Homo sapiens: one gene and its partners. The protein of the gene in region 1 purifies or fractionates together with the protein of each later gene. This does not show direct contact. Each region holds a gene or a part of one and is shown in the gene's direction. Other genes may lie near its edges. The genes, in order: VRK1, SMARCA1, CPVL, EXOSC7, DPYSL5, PCF11 and HADHA.

Region 1 (3,500 bases):
TCTTACTGATTTTAGAGCATTCTTTATATGTTGTGTATACAAAATCCTTTGCCAAATATATGATTTGTAAATATATTCTCTCAGTCTCTGGCTTGTCTTTTCATTCTCTTAACAGTGTCTTTAGCAGCAAAAAAGTTTCAAATTTTGTTAAAGTCCAACTTCTCAATATATGGATCGTGTTTTTAGTGCCTATCTTAGAACTCTCTGCCTAACTCTAGGTCAGGAGGTTGTTCTCATTTTTTCTTCTGTTTTACCCTTATATGTCTTACATTTAGATCCGTGATCCTTTTTGGTTTCATTTTTGCACAGGATGTGAGCTTTAGATCTTGGTACATTTTTCTTTTCCTTTTGTCCATGGATGTCCAGTTGTTCCAAAACCATTTGTTGAAAAGTCTACCCTTTCTCCATTCAATAAGTTTTAAAAATCAAAAATCAGTTGGCCATATACTGTAAATTAGGTATCAAAACAAAGACAGGAAGAAATGAATGAGCAATTAACTATTAATAAATACAGGTTTATTGAAGGTATAACATGGCTGGAGTCTGGAAAAAGTGGGAAAACATTTTAGAGAATAACATGGGCAAAGATCTGTTCTAGAGAAAATAAGTAAGAACTGGCTATTTTTGGGAGTCATGCAAGTGAAGGGAAGTAGAGAAGTAAAGGAAGGATCATTGGTTCGTGAAAAAGAAAGAGTATATAAACTTCTGGCTAGATTGAAGCATTTGTAATCAGTTTCATTGGCTATTAGGAAGGTGCTGTATATTCTTAATCAGGAAAATGGTATGATAGAAATGGTATTAAAGAGAAGTTGTTTTAGGACCATTTGTGGCAGTGATACGTTGGTAGGAAGAACAGGATATAATCATGACCCTTGACTTACAACTTTGTTTTACAAATATCTGCCAGAAAGCTAAAAAAGTGGTGTTACTTCAGAATGTTATAAATTCCTAGTATTTTCTAGAAGGCAGTGGTAGATTTCAAACTTTTGCTGCTGTCCTCAGTGATGGATATGGAGAAGTCAGCAGGACTTCCAAACTGTTTCGTATTTATGCTACTGTTATTAAGTTGTACATTTGGGAAAAAGAGTAGTTTCCGTTGGCTCATTGTTGATGTGGGTGACATTTCTTACCAGGCCTGAAAAGAGTCCAAGCGTTGAGCAACTGAAATGATAAAAACATGAAGAGTTCATAAATCGGTCCAATGAGGAAAAGTTAATGGGATCAGATTTATTTATCATGGCAAAGAGGAGACTCAGGGGTTATTTAATCAGTATGTCCTGATACTTGTATGTGAAGAACTATACAGAGAATGATGATGACCAGCTGTTCTTCAAAATCCTGAGGACTGCATAAGAACAAATGGCTCAAATTGCAGCTTTAAGGTTTTGGTCTTAGGGAAGAATTTCCGGACAGTAAAGACATTATATATTTCATGTGAGATATTAAAGGATACACTAGAAACCTAGATGTAGTATAGGAACATTTTGCTTGTAGTCAGGGGGATGTGAAAGATAACAGATCTATGTTTTTGCCCTCGAGTCCTATTAAATTCATGAGCAAAAGTACTCACTTTCCATTTTGTTAGTGCCTACTTCAGTTGTTAGTTTCTTTCTCCATGCAAATTATACTCTTCCCCTCCCCTGCCGTTTATCTGTGGGGATCTCTTTGGTTTCTGCTTTCTTTTGTGCATTTAAAAGATTATCATGGCTGTAGATTAGACTTAAGTCATTTTAAAAATAATCAGTCAACAAATAGAACCTGTATAGTGTCGAACTACTAGAAATCAATGCATTTCTGTTCCTATTTAGAACATGGAAAAATGTATCATTCCATTAAGAAAAAAATCAGTGATGACTTGTTGAGGCAAGGATTTTACAGTGTAAGAGGTTACCATTGACACATGTTAATGAAAGAAGGGCAGTGTTAAAAGCTTTCATGCAACATCTCACATGTTTTTAAAGTACCTGTTCTGTTTGATTTAACTTCCTTATTCTGATTCTTTTCTACTTGTCTAGATCTTTTTTTCCACTGAAATGTTGAGATTGACCAAGAATATTTCACTTGTGATTTGCAGCCCTTCAGTATTATCACAGAGAATTTTTCTTTTTTTTTTTTTTTTTCTGCAGAAGAGCAAGCTCTTATAGTGCTATGCAAGCTGCCCATTTAAAACTATCATTGCTTGGCACCTATGCCCTAGTGACAGTTTGACCAACATGTGAGCAGGCATACTGCCATCCTGACAGATGGGCGTGAGTATAGGCAGCCAAGAAACCATGTATCTGCATCTAGTGTATTTGTTAAGGGCAGGATTCCCAGTCGGGGATGTTCAAACGTCTGTCCATTCTGAGCTTTCACGCCTATGGATAAAAGGATGTCATCATTAATCCCATCCTCCATGGGTATATAAGAGCTTCTTGGCTCTTACAGAAGTAGGCAATTGGGGACAATCAGGATAATTGTTCTCTTCTTCATCACAGGACTACTTCAAATAATCCTTTCCTCTTTCTCCTAGCCAGCTAGGTTTACAGTGAGTACAAACCTGTTCAGACATTGTCCTGATACTTGTGGAATATGTGCTTGTTCATTTCTTTTCCAGAGTGTGAAAGCTTTGAAAGTCATTTGATGTTTATGCTTTGGACAGTGACATATAAAATTGGGTCAGGTAGATCTAGTTCAAATATTGACTGCTGTGTGACATTAGAGCAATTCAATTTAGCATCAAATCAAGGTAAAATAATACCTATCTTAGAGTTGTTGAATTAACTGCAAACTGTATACATGAGTCATTTGGTGTAATGTCTGGCCCACAGTAAGTGTTCAATAAATGTTTGTCATCATCATCATTTTCACTTTGATATACCTGAAGGTATTTTTCTCTGGAGAGGTATCTGAAACAAAACTTTTTTCAATTCACTCTCACTTCCCATCATTCCCCTCCCTCCCTCCCTCCCTTCCTTCCCTCCTTCCCTTCCTCTCGCTCTGTCAACCAGGCTGGAGTGCAGTGGTGCGATCATAGCTCACTGCCACCTTGATTTCCTGGGAGCAAATGATCCTCCTCCTGAGTAGCTGGAATGACAAGCCACCATTCCTGGCCCACCATTCTTGTGACATCATCACATGGTCTGGTCTATGATGAAATGCCTCCAACGACAGAGAACTCACTATCTCTAGGGCAGAATTTCTCAACCATGGGACTGTTGACATTTTACATGGGTCACTGTTTGTTCTCTGCACTGTGGGATGTTTAGTGGCATCTCTGGCTACAGAGACAAAATCATCTCTGGTTGAGAACCACTGCTCTAGAGACAGCCTATCCTATTTTTATTAAAGTTTTGACCATTAGAAAATTCTTTCTTACATTGAGTGGAAGTCTACTTAATTTCTTCTACTCACTTCTGCCTTTTGGAGAAATGTGGAACAGGCTGAATCCCTCTTCCACGTAACATCCTTTCAAATATGTGAAAATAGTCATCAAGTATTCTCAGTCTTTTTGATTTGAA
Region 2 (3,500 bases), on another chromosome or scaffold:
TCTGATATTTTACCTCCTAGATATATTTCAGCTCTCACTCAAAACGTTTTCATTATTATTGTTTTTAAATAATGTAAATGAATTATTACTTGCTTAGTTAAATTTGTGTATGTAATTGTTCTAAATTTGTATCTATCGATGTAAGCTTTTAAAGATTAGGAACTTCATTTATATAATATACTTTCTACAGAAATTCACACAGTACAGTATATGTATAGATGCTTACATATTTTTGAAGATGGAAGAATATTATAAAGTATATTTATAAGGAATATTATAAAGTGTGTGAAGATTTTCTATATGTATTTTAAATGTTTTTATTTGTTTCTTAAGGACCCTGATGGTCTAATTTTATTTTTCTCTTTTTCTTCTATCCCTTTATCAATAAAAAATAAAGGAAGCAATAGAGGCTTTTAATGCTCCTAATAGTAGCAAATTCATCTTTATGCTAAGTACCAGGGCTGGAGGTCTCGGAATTAACCTGGCAAGTGCTGATGTGGTTATACTATATGATTCAGACTGGAACCCACAGGTTGATCTACAAGCTATGGTTAGTAATCTTTAATGGTGTCAGAAATTTATCATAGCTCTGAATACTATTGCTATTTACACACATAAAGGTCATTTATGATAAAAAGGTAACAATTTTTGAGAGATTTTATAGAAGTTACAGTAGATTATCCTGGAAAACACAGTTGCTATGCTAATTGCAAAAACAAAAGAAATGAAAGCGAACAACAAACACACCCCAGATCCAACTTATAGCATTTATGTGTTGATTTTGGTTTTTTTCATGAAATAGAAATGTCAGTTTTTTCCCATTCCTACAGATTGAAGAGGACACATAAATTTGTTTTAATGAAAAGGATTAAAAAACAATCTCTTGTTATTATTCTGTTCAACAACTAAATATATTAAAATCCTTAGTACTGAAATTAAGAGAGGTAGGATTTTAACTTTCATAAAAAACAATTTGGGAGAGAAGGCAAAAAGGTAAGAAAGGAATATATTCCAGAAAAACACTTGCTACTTAATAATGATACCATGCAAAAGCTATTCTACACTTAAAAACATTTTTTTTTAGGGAGCAAAGTTTCTCTGACCTTTCATCATGACACTACAGGTAACCCCTTTGATATTTTGGTGTCATTTATTGAACTAGAGCTACAACTTCTCTCAATGTGACTCACATTTTCAGATAAAGAAATATAATTTAGAAGTAAAAAGATGCAAAATAACTTCTTAGGTTTTGAATATATAGCTATGGATAAGTGTCTTTTTGGGAGCAATGAAAAGTCATATGCCAATGAGGTATAACTTAGAAGGCTTTCCTTTTATAATAGAGAATTGAAAGGGATTGACCACTGGGACATTCCAAAATCAATATGCTTTGGCGTAATTATTATTGCATTACGATGGTATTGAACTACCTGTTTGATATGACTAACTAGGAGTAAGCCCCAGTAAGTTACAGTGTTACTGAACTGGAAAATCTAATAGTGATAGCACTTCATTTCCGTAGAAGTCTTAGTGTGCATCCCATCTTTCAGGATTTGCTGGTTCAGGTTTAATGTAAATATGTGCAGGGGATTGCATTCTGTTTGAAAAATGTGCTGTGTTGAAACTTTGTTACTAGGCTCTAGTGTTTTTATATTTAGTACAAGGCCTGTTTTGAACTTACATTTTTTTTTTCTCTACCACCCTCCTCCCTTTACCTATTTGCTCTAGCAGCTTCTGTGTTTTAAAAATACTCTCCCTAGATGGTTTTATACCACTAGAAGTTCGCCACCTGTCACCTGTACCAACTATAAACCATAGGACCAGTCCTAGGCTACTGAATAGTAAGGATAGTAATATCCCATTAATTTTTATAACTCTTTACTGCATATCCCTCAGTAAGCAGAAAGAAGTGCCTGATGATGAAATAAAGCAGACTTTTGCCACCATAGCAACCCTAACTACTTAATAAAATTCCTTGCTAGTTTCGAAGATGTTTATATTTAGTGGCTTAAAGTTACTTAGTAACTCAATCCAGAAACTTTCAGCTCCCTCTTTTATTCATCTTACAGGTGCTTTGCCCTTTGTCCTGGAAGTTTCCCATTAATGGTACAATATAATATTTGCAGATTTCTTTGTTCCCAGTGGTCTTTAGATATTCTCAATATTCATCATGCTCTTTTCCAAAGTGTCAGATCTAGAGAAAAATAACTAATTTTATTTTTAGAATTTTATAGCATATGATGGCTCTAAATTTTATCCAGAATATCCAATATCTTACATTAGAACTCTTTCTACTAGGATCGAGCACATCGTATTGGTCAGAAGAAACCAGTACGTGTATTCCGTCTCATCACTGACAACACTGTTGAAGAGAGGATTGTAGAAAGAGCTGAGATAAAACTGAGACTCGATTCAATTGTTATACAACAAGGTATTTATACATAGAAACTTAATTAGGTGTTTTTTGTAAAACACATGTAGTTTTCTTCAAAGGAGATTACTTTTAATAAAAGTTGACCAAAATTTGAAAACTTAGAGGAAAAATTGAAACATCACTGTGTATCCCATGAGTCTGTACAATTGTTATGTATCACCTAAAAATAAAAGGAAAAAATTTAAAAATGCTAATTGAGGCTGGGTGAGGTAGGTCATGCCTGTAATCCCAGCACTTTGGGAGGCCGAGGCGGGTGGATCACCTGAGATCAGGAGTTTGAGACCAGCCTGGCCAACATGGTGAATCCCTGTCTCTACTAAAAATACAAAAAATTAGCCGGGTGTGGTGGCGTGCACCAGTAGTCCCAGCTACTCAGGAGGCTGAGGCAGGAGAATTGCTTGAACCTGGGAGGTGGAGGTTGCAGTGAGCCGAGATCGCGCCACTGCACTCCGCCTTGGGCGACAGAGCAAGACACTGTCTCAAAAACAAACAAACAAACAAACAAACGAACAAAAAATGCTAATTGAAATCTTCTGAATTGAAACCCTGGCATTTGATATATGGAGTAGTTGAACATCACTAGCTTATTCTTGAATGTCAGTAGCATGCTTTTTGAAGTACCTGAGATTATTTAGCAGATAAAATGGCTACTTTTAAATTTTTGAAAACATATTAGAGGGTACCTTTTCATATAGAGAAGTTTGATCTGAAAACAGAGTTTGAACATGAAAAAAAGTTTCTGTCCTTCTGGGTTTTAACTGAGTTTTACAGAAGGGAATTTATATAGAAATAGAAAGTATGCTAGAAGAAAAACTTGTAGGGTTTATTAAACAAATAACCTTAATGCTCACTAATTTTTTGTTCTTTAAAGCTTTATGTGTGGTTAAATGTGATAATGTCTGATTAGAATGATTATGCCTTCTTTGGAATATGATTGATTGAATATGTACAATTTCAATTTTTATCATTAGGAAGACTCATTGACCAACAGTCTAACAAGCTGGCAAAAGAGGAAATGTTACAAATGATACGGCATGGAGCCACCCATGTTTTTGCTTCTAAAGAG
Region 3 (3,500 bases), on another chromosome or scaffold:
GAAATGTAGAACGTGAAATAAAGATGAAGCCATTCTGAGTCATGTGCAGACCGTGGGAAATATCTCCCTGTATTTGACAAAAGGGGAAATGGCAGCCATAGCTAATTCTGAAGATGAAAAGTGTTCCTGCCTGGGTTACTTGATGAAGAATATTATTAGCAATCAGCAAGTCAAGTGGAAATAATTTGTTTTGTTTTGTTTTCTCCCCTTCTAACTATTGGCATGTTGGTAGAATTAACTTGGCTGGCAGGAGAATGAACCGCCTGTGCCGTTGGGACACAGGAGATTTCTGAGCTGGCAGACTGCACACTCCATGTAAAACCATGACTCTTTCCACCATTCTTGTGTACACGTGTGCCTGAACATTGGTGTCTGCAAAATCCGAGACGTCTGTTTCAGAGAAAAATTGCTGGAAGCCACTGATTTAGAATTTTAATAGGATTTTTAAAAAATCTGTGCTTAAAAAACATGTAATTTAATCAGTGTTGTAGCCCCCCTGCCCCCCCAAGAATAGCCTTTCTTAGGTTTCTTAGGTTGTCTTACGAACACTGACAGAAATGTGTAGGTTCAGGGCACCTAGAGCAGATGTGGAAGTTCTTTCATTAAGGTAGCCTGCGTGAATCATCCCTGTGACTCAAAGCCTGAAGCAGTTTTAGCCTGATCTCCTTGGCTGCATTTTTAGAATCTTAGACATTCCAAGCTGAAAGGGATTTTGGGAATTATATAGTCCATCTAATCTCCAGAATTTACAAATGAAGGAACTGAAGTCCAAGGGGAGAAGTGAATTGGCTTGCCCAAGGATATACCTGTTGGCAAAGTGAAGGCTGGAACTTTTGACCTTGTACATTCAGGAATTGTGGCAGAGCCTTTCCTGCTCGTCTTAGAATGTAATGTACTATAGGGAGCCCGCAGCCATCCTCTACGGTCTGGCTTTATTGTCTCTTTTCTCCCTATTTTTTAGTCTCCTTCTACCTTTTCTCAGCACACCTTTCAAGTGGGATGGAAGTTGAAACCCACTCAGCAGAGAATATGAGAAATACATGTGTAATGACACAAAGTTAGGTGTGTTAGCATTATGTCCAGCAAAGGAGGACACATACCCAAAGGTTGGGAGAAGTGGGAAGAGGCCTCTGAAATATTTGGCCTTGTGCTGAATGAGTCGAAGGAGGGATCAGGGAAGAGGTACCCGCTGGATTAGCTGCTGCCAAGTGCCCGTGGCAGCTCAGGAACTTAGACTCTCAGCAGTCTCTGTTCAGGAGATGGGAGGGACAAAGCGCTATCATTGGTAAGAATACAGCAGTTGCTCAGAAAAAAGGACTGTCCATCATACTGCAGCTGCAGAGTGGCCTTGGGTATATAGAAACATTGTTAATGTTCTGTTGGGAGCATCTTAGACTGATTAGCAGCAGAGCTGATTTTCACTCCCAGGGATCTGGGTCTCTCTCTTTCTCGGTTAATGGCACCACTGTCCACCCACCCAGCCATCTAAGTCACATCTGGGATCATCCTAGATTCTTTGTTCTATTTCAACTCTAATATATAATCACAAGTTTCTTCCAGTTTTACTTTCTTCTTCTTCTTCTTATTATTATTATTTGGAGACGTAGTCTCGCTCTTTTGCCCAGGCTGGAGTGCAGCAGCGTGGTCTTGGATCACTGCAACCTCTGCCTCCGGTGTTCAAGTGATCCTCCCACCTCAGCCTCCTGAATAGCTGGGATTACAGGCACATACCACCAAGCCTGGCTAATTTTTGTATTTTTTTGTAGAGACAGGGTTTTGTCATGTTGGCCAGGCTGGTCTGGAACTCCTGACCTCTGGTGATCTTACCCACCTTGGCCTCCCAAAGTGCTGGGATTACAGGCGTGAGCCACTGCTCCCAGTCAACCTTCTAATTATTTTTAAGTCTGCCCTCTCCACGCTATTATTACTAGTTTCCAGCCCTAGTTCAAACTCCTGTCATCTTTATTCTAGATTATTGTGAAACATATTAACTGGCCTTCCTGCCTGCTGTCTTTCTGGCTTAAGTCCATCCTTACATTGATGTTCATAGTACTCTTTTCAAATTATCAAGCCCTTCAGTAGTTCCTAGTCACTAGAGGATAAAGATTCTTAGCATATCTAGAAAACTCTCCCTGATCAGCTCTCTACTGACTTCTCTAGATTCCATCCTATTTCTCCACTTCCTACTTATGCTTTTCTCCTGCCTCTGTATTGGTTATCTATTGCTGCATAACAAATTTTTAAATGCTATAAATTCTATGACCTCCCAAAATAGTGATATAGGCGTTAAGAAGAAATTATTTGGGCAGATAGTGAGAGTACAGGAGTCCTCGGTAAGGTTTTCCTTTTAATGAAAAGCAGACCCCAAATCATTTTCTTTTCTAACAAAGAGCAGCCTGCCTATAAAATTGAGCTACACACATAGACAAGTAAGCTGGAAGCTTGCACAGGTGAATGCCGGCAGTTGTGCCAATAGGAAAAGGCTACCTGGGCTAGGCATGTTCAAAATGGCAGCTCCGTCTTCCCTTTTCCTTTCCAACCATGTGTACAGTAGGGAACAGACAGTAATGCTGGCCAAGTGGAAAGCCCATTTGCTTAATAAGGTTAGGGTGAGGTGGCCAGCTTCCCTGCATGCTATGTAAATGTCACACCTGGTCCAGCCAATCTGTGGGCCAATCTTTGTCTATATAAATCAGACACCACCTCCTCAAGCCTGTCTATAAAATCTGGTGCACTCCACGGAGGGCCAGATTTCCCATTCAGATGCCCCTCTCTTGCAAGAGAGAGAAGTGTTCTCCTTTCTCTTTCTTTTGCCTACTAAACCTCTGCTCCTAAACTCACTCCTTGTGCGTGTCCATGTCCTTAATCTTGGCATGAGATGGCGAACCCCAGGTATTTACCCCAGACAGTGATGCCACCTCAATAGGAGAGACAGCAGCACATGAGGGAAGTATAGAGGGATTCATTTAATTAGGAGTTAAAGTCAAGGTTGGAAACTAGTTTGGAGGTTTGCAGTAGTCCAGGCAAGTCACAATAAAGAACTGGATTAGGCCATGAGAGTAGATTTAGAGAGGTGAAGGTGAATTTGAAGAACATCTAGGAGATTCAGTTGGTGATTGATTGGCTGTGGGAATGCAGGGCCAGAGAAAAATGGATAAATAAAGAATACATCCTGGATTTCTGGCTTTAGTACTTGAGTTGATGGGAGTATTTCCAACCAAGATGAAAAATAGGGAAGTAAGGACAAGTTTAGGGAAGGAGATAATAAGTTTAGTTTTTGAGTTCTTCTTAACTACTTTTGATTTTTGTCAATATAATAAAAGTAATGTTATAATTCTCATGATAAAAAATTTTAGTCTTCTTCTCCCCACCTCCCCATCCTTCTCTTATCTCTGAGACCTCCTCTCATACTTTTACCTGTCTGTTCTAGCCTTTAATTCCAAATTTCCAAGTAATCTGCCTAATCTGTTTCTTGATTTATTGGTTTTAGGGTTACACCT
Region 4 (2,364 bases), on another chromosome or scaffold:
GAGAATTGTTGAACAATCCCTCAGCTGTTTTCCTCGTGAGCAGAATCTAAAATAAGACCTGGAATGACCAGTGCAAATACTTTTGCCTGGTGTAGAGATTCCCACCACGAGGCCATCAGGGGTGGGACTCTGGGGCCTGCGTGACCCACCGTGTGCCACGCACCCTGCCTTTGCAGATTGGCTATCGGCATGTGGTGGATGCTACTCTTCAGGAGGAGGCCTGCTCGCTGGCCAGCTTGCTGGTGTCGGTGACCAGCAAGGGAGTTGTGACGTGCATGAGGAAAGTGGGGAAGGGCAGCCTGGACCCAGAGAGCATCTTCGAGATGATGGAGGTGAGGCCTTAGTTCTGAGGAAGGTGCAGGGACCTGGCCGGGGTGCCTGCTGCTTCCTGCTCCCTTGGTCATACCGTGGGGATTCTCCCCATTCACAGCCTTGACCCCAAACTTGGAGATTTGGGAACAGCTGGTTTGAGCCAGGGGTCTGCTGACCTAATCAAGGGGGGTTGTGGGGGTGGATACTCTGGACTGGGAGGTAAGGAGCCTACCAGTAACCATTAATTGTCCTCAGTAAGTACCCCCCATCTCATTTCTATGTGTCTAAATAAGACTGTTGGACTTTCATAATGTAAAGAGCCACTCGTAACTCCAAAAGTGCAGGCCTTTGTGACTTGATGAGGGAATAGAATTCTTGGCTCACTGCTTCCTGTCCCTAGAAGTGGGTGAGTAAAGGTGGAAGCACGGGCTGAACTGTGGCTGTCTCCCAAATTCGTTACAGCTCTAGAAGTGTTTAAATGGAGACAAGCAGGGATGGTAAGAAATCTGACCCACTGGAGTTGGGTTGGGTTGCCCTCATCCCTAGCAGAGCCATCAAGGCGCTTCTACAGTTCTCTGTACTGTTTGCCCCACATGTCTGTCACCTCACTGGCCTGGAAGCCCCGCAGGGCAGGGACAGGGTCCTGCTCACCTGTTTCCCAGACCTTCTTTCCCCTATATCCACCTCACCTTTCTGACTGATTGACTGACTGAACTTCCAGGAACAGAGTTAGCAGGATCTGATTATTCATACTTTCTTGCAACCTCTATATCACCACACATGCCCAGAGATCATTGCTTAATAGCAAGCACTCTTCTTTTGTGTTTAGAAACAATGACTTCATACTGAAGAATCCAAGAACATGACATCTACTTTCTCTCTTTATCATGTTATTTAAAAGGCCAAAATGAGCACTGTATATAGCATGGAGTTCCCAACCATGGGCTGTGAGGGTGTACTGCCCTGGCTGCAAACCTGGCTCTGGGCCATAGTCCCCCTCATCTGCAAAGTGGGACTGATAATAGTAATATCTGCCCAGACACTGCTGAGGTTGTTATTAGGATGATGTGAGGTGTAGAGGAGAAGCACATGTCACAGTGCCTGATATGTCATCAGTTCTCAGCTAATGGCAGCTCTTATTCTCTGTGCTCCATGAAGCACCCTGAGTTCAAATTTCTCCAGACTTAATGCTGCATAAATTCTACCAAAGTCCTCTAGGCAAGGGACTGTCAAACCTTGTTTTAGAAGGTACTCTTCCCCCTCCCAGGAGAGTTTATGAGAATTTCTTTAAACAGCAACAACAAGCACAGTAAACAAATAGCTGGAGTTTATTGTGTGCGTACTATGTGCCAGATACTGTTTTCACTGCTTTAAATATATCATTTAGTCCTCAACAACCTGTGAGGTAACTATTATTATTGTCCTCATTTTTACAGATGAGGAAACTGAGGCACACAGAGGATAAGCAGCTTGCCTACAGGCCTCCCTGCTCATAAATACTGGAGCTAGGATTTAAGCCAAGACTGTGTGCGTCCAGAGCCCCTGCTCCCAGCCACTGTGCAATGTCAGCCTTATAAACCAGATCTGCCCTGGCTGTCATAGATGGCAGAACCAGAGCTCTGTTCAGTGAGCTGAGCTTTGTCCTCCCCTCAGGTTTGGGGAGTGAGGTCTGCTAACTCTGGACAGGGGACTATAGCTCTGTGGCCCTGTCTTACTGTTTATCTCACACAGGGATGCAGCAATCTGGAAAATGACTTGGTGGAGCTGAGAGCCTTGGGGGTAGTTGTGCAGGCTGCCACCCCTAGCCTCTGCAGTTGCTTTCCTGCATCTGGATTCAGAGGCGTCAAGGCCCTCTCAAGTCCTGGCATCCTGTCCATCTCATCTCCTCTTGTTGTCCTCTCTCCCCACCCTCATGTATATGAATAATCAGTACCCCTGTTTGACAGATTCAGACTTTTTTTTCTTTTTCTAATGTTATGGGAAAATCTTTCCAAAGGCCCTTTTTTTTTTTGAGATGGAGTCTCACACTATCGCCCAGGCTGGAGTGCAGTG
Region 5 (3,500 bases), on another chromosome or scaffold:
TCTAACAGCTGGAAGCTGAAGCCACTCATCGTGTTATCACCATTGCAAACAGGGTAAGTCCCCCGATGTCCACTGTGGGATTAGAAACCAACCTTGGCCAGGCACGGTGCTGATGTCTGTAATCCCAGCACTTTGGGAGGCCGAGGTGCGTGGATCACCTGAGGTTAAGAGTTTGAGACCAGCCTGGCCAACATGGTGAAACCCCATTGCTACTAAAAATACAAAAATTAGCTGGGCGTGGTGGCGTGCACCTGTAATCCCAGCTACTCAGGAGGCTGAGGCAGGAGAATTGCTTGAACCCAGGAGGCGGAGGTTGCAGTGAGCCAAGATCGTGCCAACTGCAATCTGTCCTGGGTGACTGAGCGAGACTCTGTCAAAAAAAAAAAAAAAAAAAGAAAGAAAAGAAAAGAAAGAAAGGAAAGAAAGAAAGAAAGAAAGAAAGAAAGAAAGAAAAGAAAAAAGAAAGAGAAAGAAAGAAAAGAAAAAAGAAAGAGAAAGAAAGAAAGAGAAAGAAAGAAAGAAAGAAAGAAAGAAAGAAAGAAAGAAAGAAAGAAAGAAAGAAAGAAAGAAAGAAAGAAAAGAAAGAAAGAAAGAAAGAAAGAAAACCAACCTCTACGATGCAGCCCCATTCTGCTCTGGGTGCCAGCACCATGTCTTGCCCACAGGAACCCAGAGCTGTTTGCTGACTGAGCGCTGTCATGCCCACCATCCTTGCATTCACCCTTCTCACCACCAGCTTTCCATTCCACCCCGCCGAGCCTGCTGAAGCTCAGTTCATTGCTCACGTGTAAACTCAGTCCAGCTCCTAAACTCTACATCCTCCTAATGTGATAAGCAAAGAGAACAGAATAACATCTGGGGAAACAGAATTTCCCAATTGCACTTTAGAGCTCTGGCCGCTGGACAAGGACATTGTTTCACTGTCATGACAATAGTTATTTATCAATTACTTCCTGGTGGAACTTAACCCAGAATAAGGAAAGACCCAAACAACAAAAAGTCAGTTCCTTGCCTTTTAGCTCAAGCATATGCTCAGAGGAGTTAAGCCATGGACCGTGGTTGCACAGCTTAGTAGAGAAAAAGCTAACCAGTATTACAGTCCAGGTGTCCGTTCGCAAGGTCAGCCTTCTCTTGCCTAGACTCTGAACCCTAACCCCCTTGTATTTTGTTCATCTCCAGGGTGCATTCTGTCTACTGATAAGCAGCCTTCAGACAGCAGGCATCGTAATTTTAGATACAGAATACACGACTAACTCTAGGTCATCACGTTTATGAACAGGAAATTAAAATAGGAAAAAGAGTTCCCCCCTTTTAAATTACAGTCATGGTTGTCAGATGGGAGAAAATGCGAGGTTCAGACTTGACGGTCTTGAACTTCACAGGCTGGGCTTCCCGGTGGGCTCTGGTGCTGGAGGCTGTTCTCTGCCTCCCCGTATCATGCAGTTCCTGCAACCTTGCCCTGACTGCCAGCCCTGCATTCTCCGCTTAAGGACTGTCACCTTGAGGGTGGGGTTGAGTGACGCAGGGGGAGGCGCTGGTGCCAGGGCTGACTTTGCCAGGGTTATTCTGATGCTTGTGAAGTTTATGGGTCAACCCTCCCTACTTCCCACTGTTTCTTGTGTTTAGACTCACTGTCCAATCTACCTGGTCAACGTGTCCAGTATCTCGGCTGGTGACGTTATCGCAGCTGCTAAGATGCAAGGTGAGTCCATAGACTTGGCTGGACAGAGCAGGTCAAGTGGAGGGACTGGAGATGGATGGGGCCCATTAGCCGTGCTCACTCCTGGCCCCGGCTCCTGAAACCAGGACCTGAGCCAGCCCTTCCCTTTCATCTGCCACCGTCTTCCTCAGAGCTGCCCTGTGCTATGCTGGCTTTAGTCTGCTAGAACATGAGCTTTTTCTTCTGCAAATTTGTATGCATAACAGCTTTACGGAAGTGTCTGTCACTTCTCCTGGGTCTGGTAACATTTTCCAAGTTTTAAACCCACTCATTAATTAGTGTCTTTTTGGCCTCATAGATTTTACTAGCAGTTGCCTTGGCAACTAACATAAAATGCTGGACCAGTTTCAGTGGGCATTTCAGGGGCTGTTTGGGAAGTCCCTAAAGAAAGAACAGTGTGTGGGCCCAGCTTCCTTTTAGCCTCCTGGAACCCTGTGTATGAGTCCGAGGGGCACTTGTATGGCTTCTGTTGCGGATCGCCTGGCAGTACCTAAAGGCTTGCAGATGCTTGGAGTCCAGCCCCGCCCCAGGTGCTGGTGAGGGCCTGGCAGCAGGAGAAACAAAGTCACAGTCACAAGCCTGGGGAGACAGATCAGAAGCAAGGGCATCTCAGCCTTCAACTATAATCGATCAGAAGCAAGGGCATCCTGGCCTTCAACTCTATCGCCCTCTAGATCCCGCCACCTGCCTCTCCCCTCACTGAAGCCCCTTGGAGGGTCTCGCCTAGACTGTCGTCCCAGCCTGGTGACTGCTCCCACCTCCTGTCTCCCTGTCCTCCAGCCCTGCTACGGCCCTCCCTGTCCTACCACAACCGTTCTCTTGAAGCTGCTCACAGCAACTGCCTGTCCAGAAAACAGTCTAGACTGCTCTTTAGCGTGGCATTCGTGGCCCTGCATGCCTGTTCACCCACCGTCAAGCTCCATCTGCCAACAGCACCCTGCACACACCAGTGCTCTGGTCATCTGGCCAAACCAGACTCCTCAAAGTGCCGCTTGGTCCTGCTGGGCCTCGGTGCCCATGTCCCTCTGTCCTCCTTGCCTAAGTCAGCAGAATAGGGAGGCTCTCTGGGCTTGAACCCAGCTGTGCTCTTAAAAGCCCTGTGAGCTTGGGCAGGTCCCTTCCTGTCTCTGACCTCAGCTCCTTCACCTGTAAAATGAGAGGCACACACCAGCGATCGCTCAGGTTCGGTGGCTTCCTGGTTATGGTTCTGACCTTTCTTCTTCCAGGGAAGGTTGTGCTGGCGGAGACCACCACTGCACATGCCACGCTGACAGGCTTACACTACTACCACCAGGACTGGTCCCACGCGGCTGCCTATGTCACGGTGCCTCCCCTGAGACTGGACACCAACACCTCAACCTACCTCATGAGCCTGCTGGCCAAGTAAGGCGTTTCAGCAGCACATTGCAGGGATGTGTACATCTTTAGGAAGACGTCATAGAGGGCCCAGGAAACAAATCTGAGCTAGGTTTGATTTCATTGTGCCCATAGGATCATTGTGCTTTTCTTACCTTCTCTGAGCCCATCAGATAATTGCCATCCTATTGGGATTTTATGACCGCTTGATATGGAGTGAGATCTTCTGAAGTATAAGAGTGAAGAGCACATATAGAACTGTGAACCGTGGTTATTCGGAATTTCAAAGGACATTGATCTCTTACTCTAAAGCCCAGTGGGGAGCTGCAGAACGTGGCCTGTGACTTATCCTAGAATGTAGGGGTCCTTTCTGTTTCTTTTGTTCACCTCTCCCTCTTCTTGTTGGCTCCCGTGTGCCCCTTGT
Region 6 (4,266 bases), on another chromosome or scaffold:
CATGCCCGGCTAAGTTTATTTTTTAAGAGCAATTTCTTCTGGGGAGCAACAAATTATCTCTCAAATGCCTAGTAGCCTACGGAAGGCAATGGAAAAGCAATTTTAGGTAATTGACACTTTTTTTTTTTTGAGACAGACTCTCGCTGTCACCAGCCTGGAGTACAGTGGCGTGATCTCGGCTCACTGCAACCTCCACCTCCCGGGTTCAAGCGGTTCTCCTGCCTCTGCCTCCCGAGTAGCTGGGACTACTATAGGCGCACGCCACCACGCCCAGCTAATTTTTGTATTTTTAGTAGAGACGGGGTTTCACCATGTTGGCCAGGGTGGTCTCGATCTCTTGATCTCGTGATCCGCCCGCCTCGGCCTCCCAAAGTGCTGGGATTACAGGCGTGAGCCACCGCGCCCAGCCCGTAATTGACACATTTTAAAAGCTTATATTTAGGTCAATATCGCTACTCAATGAAAAAATTACGTTTGGTTTGTGTTATGTCGCAGCTCCACGGTGAACTATTTGAAAGCTTTGTGTGTTTTACGAGCATCATTTCCAACCTGGGAAGACAGCCCCACAAGTTTAAAACAAAAGTGCATGCGCGTGTGTGTTTTCCTACGTGCCCCAAATAGTGTATGCTAAGGAGGTTCTGAAATGCAGATTCACAGTGGAGATATTACGGTCCAGCTGGGTGTGGCTGTTGTGAAAAACTCTTCCTAGAGCTCATAGTGGGCTCCTTAAAGAGCTCCTCCAAACCCCCAAGGAAAAAGCCTTTCACACTTAATCTCTAAATAAAAGGCATTTTCCTGGGGATTCAAGTCAGGCAAGCTCGCCTAGGTATTTTTGTGGGTGTGGGAAGCGGCGTGCTGGAAGAAACTCTCCAGCAGTGCTTTCCGAAGTTCCGGGTAAATTGGGCACCTCCCTCCCACTTCCCAGTTCCCAGAGGGGCAGCTGGACCCGCCCTGGCTCTCCAGAGCACCTGAGACGCTAAGGGAGAGGGGGTGCGGCGGCAGAAAGCCTCCGCTCCCTCCAACCCCCGCTCCCTCCAACCCCCACCGTCGGTAGCAGCTACGGGGCAGGCGGGAGGAAAGATGATTGACAGGCCCGCTCAGTGGCTGGGAAGCTAGAGGGAGGGACGAAGAGGGGACGGCTGAGTCTTCTTCTCAAAGTGGTTGGGTTGGGCCGCGGGAACTGCCTTCCCAGGCCTATTGGCTTCCCTGAATGGGTTGTTATGGTAACAAATGACCGAACAGTCCCTTATGAATCGGCCAATGAGAAGGGCCGTCTTTTCCAGTGCGCCTCCGAGCAGTAGATGTTGCGAAAGTCCGGGTAGAGGCCGGAGAAGAAGGCGGTGCCAGGGCGTCCTGCGGAAGGGCCGGGGGCGGGGCTCGTGACGTTGCCGGGACAGCCAATCACGCCTGGTTTTATCAGTGGCCCCGCCCTTTTACCGCACATTTCCCCTCCCCTAGTTCATTTCGCACGACGCAGCGGTTGGGAACACAGACATTTTCGGAGCTGGAGCCGCCACTGCCGCCGCCATTTTGTGTCTGTGGAGAAAGAAGCTTCTGTGGCGGCTGGAAGTGGACGGAGATCACCCGCGAGACGGCGGCGTTTCATACCCGAGGTTCCCCCTGTGTCGTCCCCCATCCCCCCTCCGCGGTCAGCATGTGGTGAAGCCGGAGCCGCGAGAGAGCCGGGGAGAGGAAGAGGAGTCGGAAGGGAGGCGGGGTATCCAGAGCGGCTTCAGCTTCAGCTGCAGCGGACCTCGGAGGGGGGCCGCGGCGCAATGTCAGAGCAGACGCCGGCCGAGGCCGGTGCTGCGGGGGCCCGGGAGGACGCCTGTCGGGATTATCAGTCATCGCTCGAAGACCTGACCTTCAATAGCAAGCCGCACATCAATATGCTGACCATTCTAGCCGAGGAGAACCTGCCCTTCGCCAAGGAGATCGTCTCTCTCATCGAGGCCCAAACCGCCAAGGTTTTTATACACCCCGCAGCCTCCTATTACTTCTAATACTCCCTGATTTTAGTGTCAGCCTCATCCCAGGTCTCGCTTCCATCCCAAGGGGGACAGTGTTCCTTCTCTCCAACCCCCCCACCCCCCTCCAACTCAGGCTCGGTCTTTGGCCCAGGCTTCGAGCATGGGCCTCTGGGGGGGAGGGAGTGGGGAGGATAAAGGGTGGAGTCCCACTTCCGCTTTCCAACTCCCTTTTTAGGCCACCGCATTGTATATCCCGACACACACACGCTTTGAATAGAGCCCTTTGGGGTGGGGGAGACTTAAAGGCAGTTTGTGGTTTGGGGAAGTAAGAGTTAACATAAGCCATTTTAATTCCCTGGGAAGTGGGAGAGTGGGTCTCCCATTTTCCCCAAGCACCCTTTTTGGTAATTGTGTTCTGTGGGTTGGAAGGAGGTGAAGGGGGACCTGGGAGCGAGCTGTTGGTGGGTGGGAATAGGGATTTGGCCCCGAGTGGAGCAGCCGCCTGTTAGGAGCCCAACATGGCGCCTGAAAAGCACATGATGCGAAAGGGAAGAGAGGAGAATCCATTCCCTGCCAGCCAGGCAGCTGCTCACTCCCGTCAGCCCCATTTTGGGGTGGGGGCGGCTAGATAAAACTTTTATTCTCCTATTGGAGGGTCTAATTTGTCCCAAAATAGGGGCAAGTGGGGTTGAGGGTGGGGTTTGGGTGGGGGGAGGAGATCTTATCCAACCTGTAGGTGGAGAACTGGCCCAGAGGGTAACAAGTACTTGCAGTTTCTCTGAAAAGTTCAGTCCCTCCTCCTCTTCCTTTTCTCTTTTTCTCCCTTCCCTGATAGCGAAGGAGTGTTTTTCTTTACCCCTTGACAGAAGTGGTCCTCTGCCACCTTATATTTCCCTGTAGTCCTCCTCTTCTGTGGATTCATATGGGAGCGATATGTCATTTAAGTAAAGTTACTGTTCAACTTAGTTACAATGAGTTTTAATAGCGTCCCAGTGCTACATTTTATTTTTCAAGCTTGTACTCACGGTTTAGTTTTTTCTAGTTGTTAGTGATTGCAATTATCAGGATGAGCCTCCTTTTAGCAGAGTGAACCCCTTTTTAAAGGCCACTTTAACAACAACCACCAATATATTGTTTAGAGACGGTTTCTGTCTAGTGTAAAACTTGAGTGGTCTGACTCTAATAAATGGTTTTGAAATGTGTGACTGGTATTATAAAATTTGTGAATAAAACATATAAAATATGTATTTGTCTTTTTTATTTACCTTTGTAAGGTGTAGAATCTGTTTCCAAGACTTATTTTTATCTACGTGGTTGTGTGTTTTAAACAAAAGTCTTTAAGTGACTTGGGTTCATTCTTCTTTAGGTTCCATCCACTCTTTTGGGTAAACCTCTTCACAAGATACACGGTTTCAGGTGGTCCTTTCATAATTTAAAGAGGACGAAAAGGAAGGGTTTTTTTTCTTTTTCCTTTTAAGGACCTCAACAAGTTTATCATGCTCAGTCTGACAGCTAAGATACAAGTTTTCGTTCACTTTTTCCTGTGAAAGTGTATGTAAAACAGCTTTTTTTTTTAAGTGTGAGATTTAAAAAGGAAGCATTCGTCATACTCAACATGCTTTTTATTGATACCACAAACATCTTGGACATGAAAACTTAGTTTTTGCCTTGTTGAAGGCTTAACTTGACATTAAATGCCTTAAAGCACTTGTGTTTTTAAGGCAAAAACATTGATTTTTAAAATCTAATTACCTCGTATCTTGGGATTTAATATTCCACAGCGCCTAATATTTAGCAGCTCAGGTTGTCACTCAAAGAACCTTGCTGGTTTTTAATGGATCCGGAAGACCTTCGAGAACCGAAAACTAAATGCTGAATATAGTGACCACATAAAACTTGTGTTTGTATATCGCTACACAGTGATGAAAATAGATGAGCTCTTTGCTGGTAAAAGACAGCTGAAATTTTGGGGGCACACGTTTCCTGGTTATTTTTGTAAAGCCAGGTTGAGGAAAAGATGTAAAAGTCACTTTGGGGGATCTATCTTAATCTGGGTTGGGATCGAGGGTGAGGGGAGGGATTTCCGTTATTTGGTAGCAAACTGGCCTGGTTTTGTGTTTTGGAGGTGAATGTTTGTGTCCTTATTCTTTAGCTTCTCTGCGTTACTAAACTTAAAGGATTCACACTTAATTTGACTCCTCCCAAGAGAGAGCAGTAGCGAAAAATAATACATAAAAGGACTTCACTTGTACAATAAAAAATTAGCCTACTTAACAGACTTTGGTGTTTAAGAGAG
Region 7 (3,500 bases), on another chromosome or scaffold:
CACTATGCCCAGCTAATTTTTTGTATTTTTAGTAGAGACGGGGTTTCACCGTGTTAGCCGGGATGGTCTCATGGATCCAGAAGTTTAACACTCTTTATGGAGAAATGATGTTGCTGCTATTGTGCTATTTGAAGCAAAATCATTCTTAACCTTCTATTTGAAGATTTGTCATCAAATATTGATGCATGATAGGATAAGTGTATAGTGAATAAGTATTGAACCAAATAAATTATAGTTTTATCTTTTTCTCTGTTCTCTACTTTTATGGATAATGCAGCATGTTAGCCGCTTGCAAGACCCTTCAAGAAGTAACACAGCTATCACAAGAAGCACAGAGAATAGTTGAGAAACTTGAAAAGTCCACAAAGCCTATTGTGGCTGCCATCAATGGATCCTGCCTGGGAGGAGGACTTGAGGTATAGATATTCTAAAGTTATTGAGACACTGTCCAACTCATTGGTGGCATTCATCAGCTGTAAACCCTTAGGCTACTGCTTTGCCTGGAAAAAGTTTCTGGAGGAGAATCCGCTTTGTTTTTTGTTTTTTGCTTTGAGACGGAATTTTGCTCTTGTCTCCCAGGCTGGAGAGCAATGGCACGATCTTGGCTCACTGCAACCTCTGCCTCCTGGCTTCAAACAATTCTCCTGCTTCAGCCTCCCCAGTAGCTGGGATTACAGGTGTGCATCACCATGCCCAGCTAATTTTTGTATTTTTAGTAGAGATGGGGTTTCACCATGTTGGCCAGGCTGGTCTCAAACTCCTGACCTCAGGTGATCCTCCCGCCTCGGCCTCCCAAAGTGCTGGGATTACAGGTGTGAGCCACTGTGCCTAAATAGCTTTGTTTTTAGTTATCAAACTTCTGGATAGGTGTTAATCCTTAATCCACATGACACAGAGCAAGTGGCACAAAGCAAGTAAATGAAGGTGTGATGTTTTCATTTGAACTGCATCTCTAATGTCCTTTTCAGCTGTAAAAATCTTGTTCAAGTTTGCAGGGCAAAGATTCAGAAGTGTGATCTAGGCTCTTAAGCTACTTAAGTCTGGTTGAGACACATAAAGCATAATATAAGTGCTTTGTCAGTAGTAAAGACGGTAAATAATAGAAGATTTGAGAGAAGAGATGCTTACTAGACCCGAACATGTAGGAAAGAAAAGAAGGGGAAAAGGAAACATTCATTGAGCACTTTTCACATGCTGAACTCTGTGCCAGACACTTTCACATATGCAGTCATTTACCACATAACGTTTCAATGACCAATTGCACATACAGCAGTGGTTCTATAAGACTGTAACACTACATTTTTCTATACCTTTTCTGTGTTTAGATACAGAAATGCTTATCACTGTGCCACAGTTGCCTACAGTATTCAATAGTCACATGCAGTCCAGGTTTGTAGCCCCTTAGGACAGGGGTCCCCAGTTCCCAGGCCATAGCCTGTTAGGAACTGGGCCCCACAGCAGGAGGTGAGCAGTGGGCGAGTGAACATTACCACCTGAGTTCCGCCTCCTGTCATATCAACAGTGGCATTAGATTCTCATAAGAGCTGGAACCCTGTTGTGAACTGCACATGAGAGGGATCCAGGTTGCGCACTCCATTGGCCTCTATTGCCTGATGATTTGAAGTGGAACAGTTTCATCCTGAAACCACTCCCTCCCACCCCACCCCCAGTTCTTGGAAAAATTGCCTTTCACAAAACCTGTCCCTGGCGTCAAAAAGGTTGGGGACTGCTGGACTAGGAGCAATAGGCTATCCCATATAGCCTAGATGTGTAGCAGGCTCTGCCATCTGGGTTTGTGTAAGTACACTCTGCGATGTTCACACAACAACAAAATTTCCTAATGGTACATTTCTCAGAACATATCCCCCTCATTATGTGACACATGACTATATTAATTAAGAAAACCTGTGCCTGGTCCTAAACTATAAGCAGAATTTGATTAACCAGAATATGGAGGGAAAAACAATTCCGCATATGGTATGGTGTGAGCAAAGGCAAAAGCAAAGCCAACTAGGACACTGTAAGTAGACGTGCTTGATTGGAGAGTCCGGGGCTTTTTAACCTGGGGTCCATATAAAATTGTGTGTGCATTTTTCTCTTGAGAGCTTCTCTAGCTTTCAGTAGATTTTTTAGGAGATCTACGGCCCAAAAAGAGGTTAGTAAATTAGAGGAAAAGTATGAAAAAAAGGCTAAAAAGGTAAATTCTAGAAATTATTAAATGCCAGCCTAAGGAATTTCAGTTTATTCTGTGAGCACATTCCTGCTTTATAAATAATCTTTAGACCCTTATCCATCTCAAGTTGCTACTAAGTTACATTTTCTAACATTCTAATTTTCTTTCATTTGTTCAAAGGTTGCCATTTCATGCCAATACAGAATAGCAACAAAAGACAGAAAAACAGTATTAGGTACCCCTGAAGTTTTGCTGGGGGCCTTACCAGGAGCAGGAGGCACACAAAGGCTGCCCAAAATGGTGAGTCTAACATCCCCTTTGTGAAGCTATATGCCCTCTTTAGATCTGTTTTCTTGTATAAAATGCATAATATGGGCATTCATTGTAGAATTAAAAAACCAAATAAAATATGAGTGTACAGGATCAGTGACAGACTTTATTCCTGGTACTTATTTTTTCAATTCCACAGATTTTTTTTTTTTTTTTTTTTTGAGACAAAATCTTGCTCTGTAGCCCAGGCTAGAGTGCAGTGGTGTGATCTCAGCTCACTGCAACCTTCTCCTCCCAGGTTCAAGCGATTCTCCTGCCTCAGCCTCCCCAGTAGCTGGAATTACAGGCGTGCACCACTGCACCCAGCTAATTTTTTATATTTTTTAGTAGAGATGGAGTTTCGCCATGTTGGCCAGGCTGGTCTTGAACTCCCGACCTCAGGTAATCCTCCCGCCTCAGCCTCCCAAAGTGCTAGGACTACAGGCATGAACCACCATGCCTGGCCTAATTCCACAGAATTATTGATCAAGGTCCTTTGTTAGTCTCTGAGGAAGGATAAAGATAACTAAGATGCATGTCTTGCATTTCTGGAGCTTATGGTTTAATTGGTTCCTTTTCCACATAATACCATCTTAACAGTTTTTCAAAACCATGAGTCATATTAATATTTCATTACAAATATAAGAGGCAGACCTTTTCCCTCATTGTCTGATTTGGATGTTCTCACTGCTGTGTTGTATGGAACCAAAAGAGGCTCAGCAGGCTTTGAATTCCAAGGAGAAGGGAAGGACAGTCAGACCTGGATGCTGCAGAGCAATCTTAATGTCAACTCAAGGGCCCACTGAACCTTATAGCTTCTGGCACTGTAGATTCCTCAGTGAAAACAAGGCTCAACAGAAATACTCTTTGCAGGGAAGTTGATCTCAATTGAGCACAAAAGAAAACAAGGTTTATGGTGTTAATTTTCTAATAATAATAATGTGCTTTCCTTCATAGGAATGTCATAAGGATTTATTGAAAGAATGAATATGCATATATGTGTATCAAAAATATTTGC

The links.
Region 2: the proteins of VRK1 (region 1) and SMARCA1 purify together in Homo sapiens (affinity purification with mass spectrometry; one large-scale study listed by BioGRID and IntAct). This does not show direct contact.
Region 3: the proteins of VRK1 (region 1) and CPVL purify together in Homo sapiens (affinity purification with mass spectrometry; one large-scale study listed by BioGRID and IntAct). This does not show direct contact.
Region 4: the proteins of VRK1 (region 1) and EXOSC7 purify together in Homo sapiens (affinity purification with mass spectrometry, with the first as the bait; one large-scale study listed by BioGRID). This does not show direct contact.
Region 5: the proteins of VRK1 (region 1) and DPYSL5 purify together in Homo sapiens (affinity purification with mass spectrometry, with the first as the bait; one large-scale study listed by BioGRID). This does not show direct contact.
Region 6: the proteins of VRK1 (region 1) and PCF11 purify together in Homo sapiens (affinity purification with mass spectrometry, with the first as the bait; one large-scale study listed by BioGRID). This does not show direct contact.
Region 7: the proteins of VRK1 (region 1) and HADHA purify together in Homo sapiens (affinity purification with mass spectrometry, with the first as the bait; one large-scale study listed by BioGRID). This does not show direct contact.

Annotation. Positions count from the first base shown.
Region 1 is NC_000014.9:96,803,882-96,807,381, forward strand, and holds part of VRK1 (serine/threonine-protein kinase VRK1), read left to right. Parts: intron 1-2,431; exon of another isoform or gene 2,432-3,500. UniProt on the Homo sapiens protein: Serine/threonine kinase involved in the regulation of key cellular processes including the cell cycle, nuclear condensation, transcription regulation, and DNA damage response.
Region 2 is NC_000023.11:129,488,991-129,492,490, reverse strand, and holds part of SMARCA1 (SWI/SNF-related matrix-associated actin-dependent regulator of chromatin subfamily A member 1), read left to right. Parts: intron 1-397; coding exon 398-550; intron 551-2,298; coding exon 2,299-2,431; intron 2,432-3,405; coding exon 3,406-3,500.
Region 3 is NC_000007.14:29,136,538-29,140,037, reverse strand, and holds part of CPVL (probable serine carboxypeptidase CPVL isoform b precursor), read left to right. Parts: intron 1-3,500. UniProt on the Homo sapiens protein: May be involved in the digestion of phagocytosed particles in the lysosome, participation in an inflammatory protease cascade, and trimming of peptides for antigen presentation.
Region 4 is NC_000003.12:45,007,244-45,009,607, forward strand, and holds part of EXOSC7 (exosome complex component RRP42), read left to right. Parts: intron 1-176; coding exon 177-332; intron 333-2,364. UniProt on the Homo sapiens protein: Non-catalytic component of the RNA exosome complex which has 3'->5' exoribonuclease activity and participates in a multitude of cellular RNA processing and degradation events.
Region 5 is NC_000002.12:26,931,632-26,935,131, forward strand, and holds part of DPYSL5 (dihydropyrimidinase-related protein 5), read left to right. Parts: intron 1-8; coding exon 9-53; intron 54-1,626; coding exon 1,627-1,702; intron 1,703-2,946; coding exon 2,947-3,103; intron 3,104-3,500. UniProt on the Homo sapiens protein: Involved in the negative regulation of dendrite outgrowth.
Region 6 is NC_000011.10:83,155,665-83,159,930, forward strand, and holds the start of PCF11 (pre-mRNA cleavage complex 2 protein Pcf11), read left to right. Parts: upstream 1-1,466; 5' UTR 1,467-1,775; coding exon 1,776-1,967; intron 1,968-4,266. UniProt on the Homo sapiens protein: Component of pre-mRNA cleavage complex II, which promotes transcription termination by RNA polymerase II.
Region 7 is NC_000002.12:26,231,133-26,234,632, reverse strand, and holds part of HADHA (trifunctional enzyme subunit alpha, mitochondrial precursor), read left to right. Parts: intron 1-277; coding exon 278-416; intron 417-2,353; coding exon 2,354-2,473; intron 2,474-3,500. UniProt on the Homo sapiens protein: Mitochondrial trifunctional enzyme catalyzes the last three of the four reactions of the mitochondrial beta-oxidation pathway.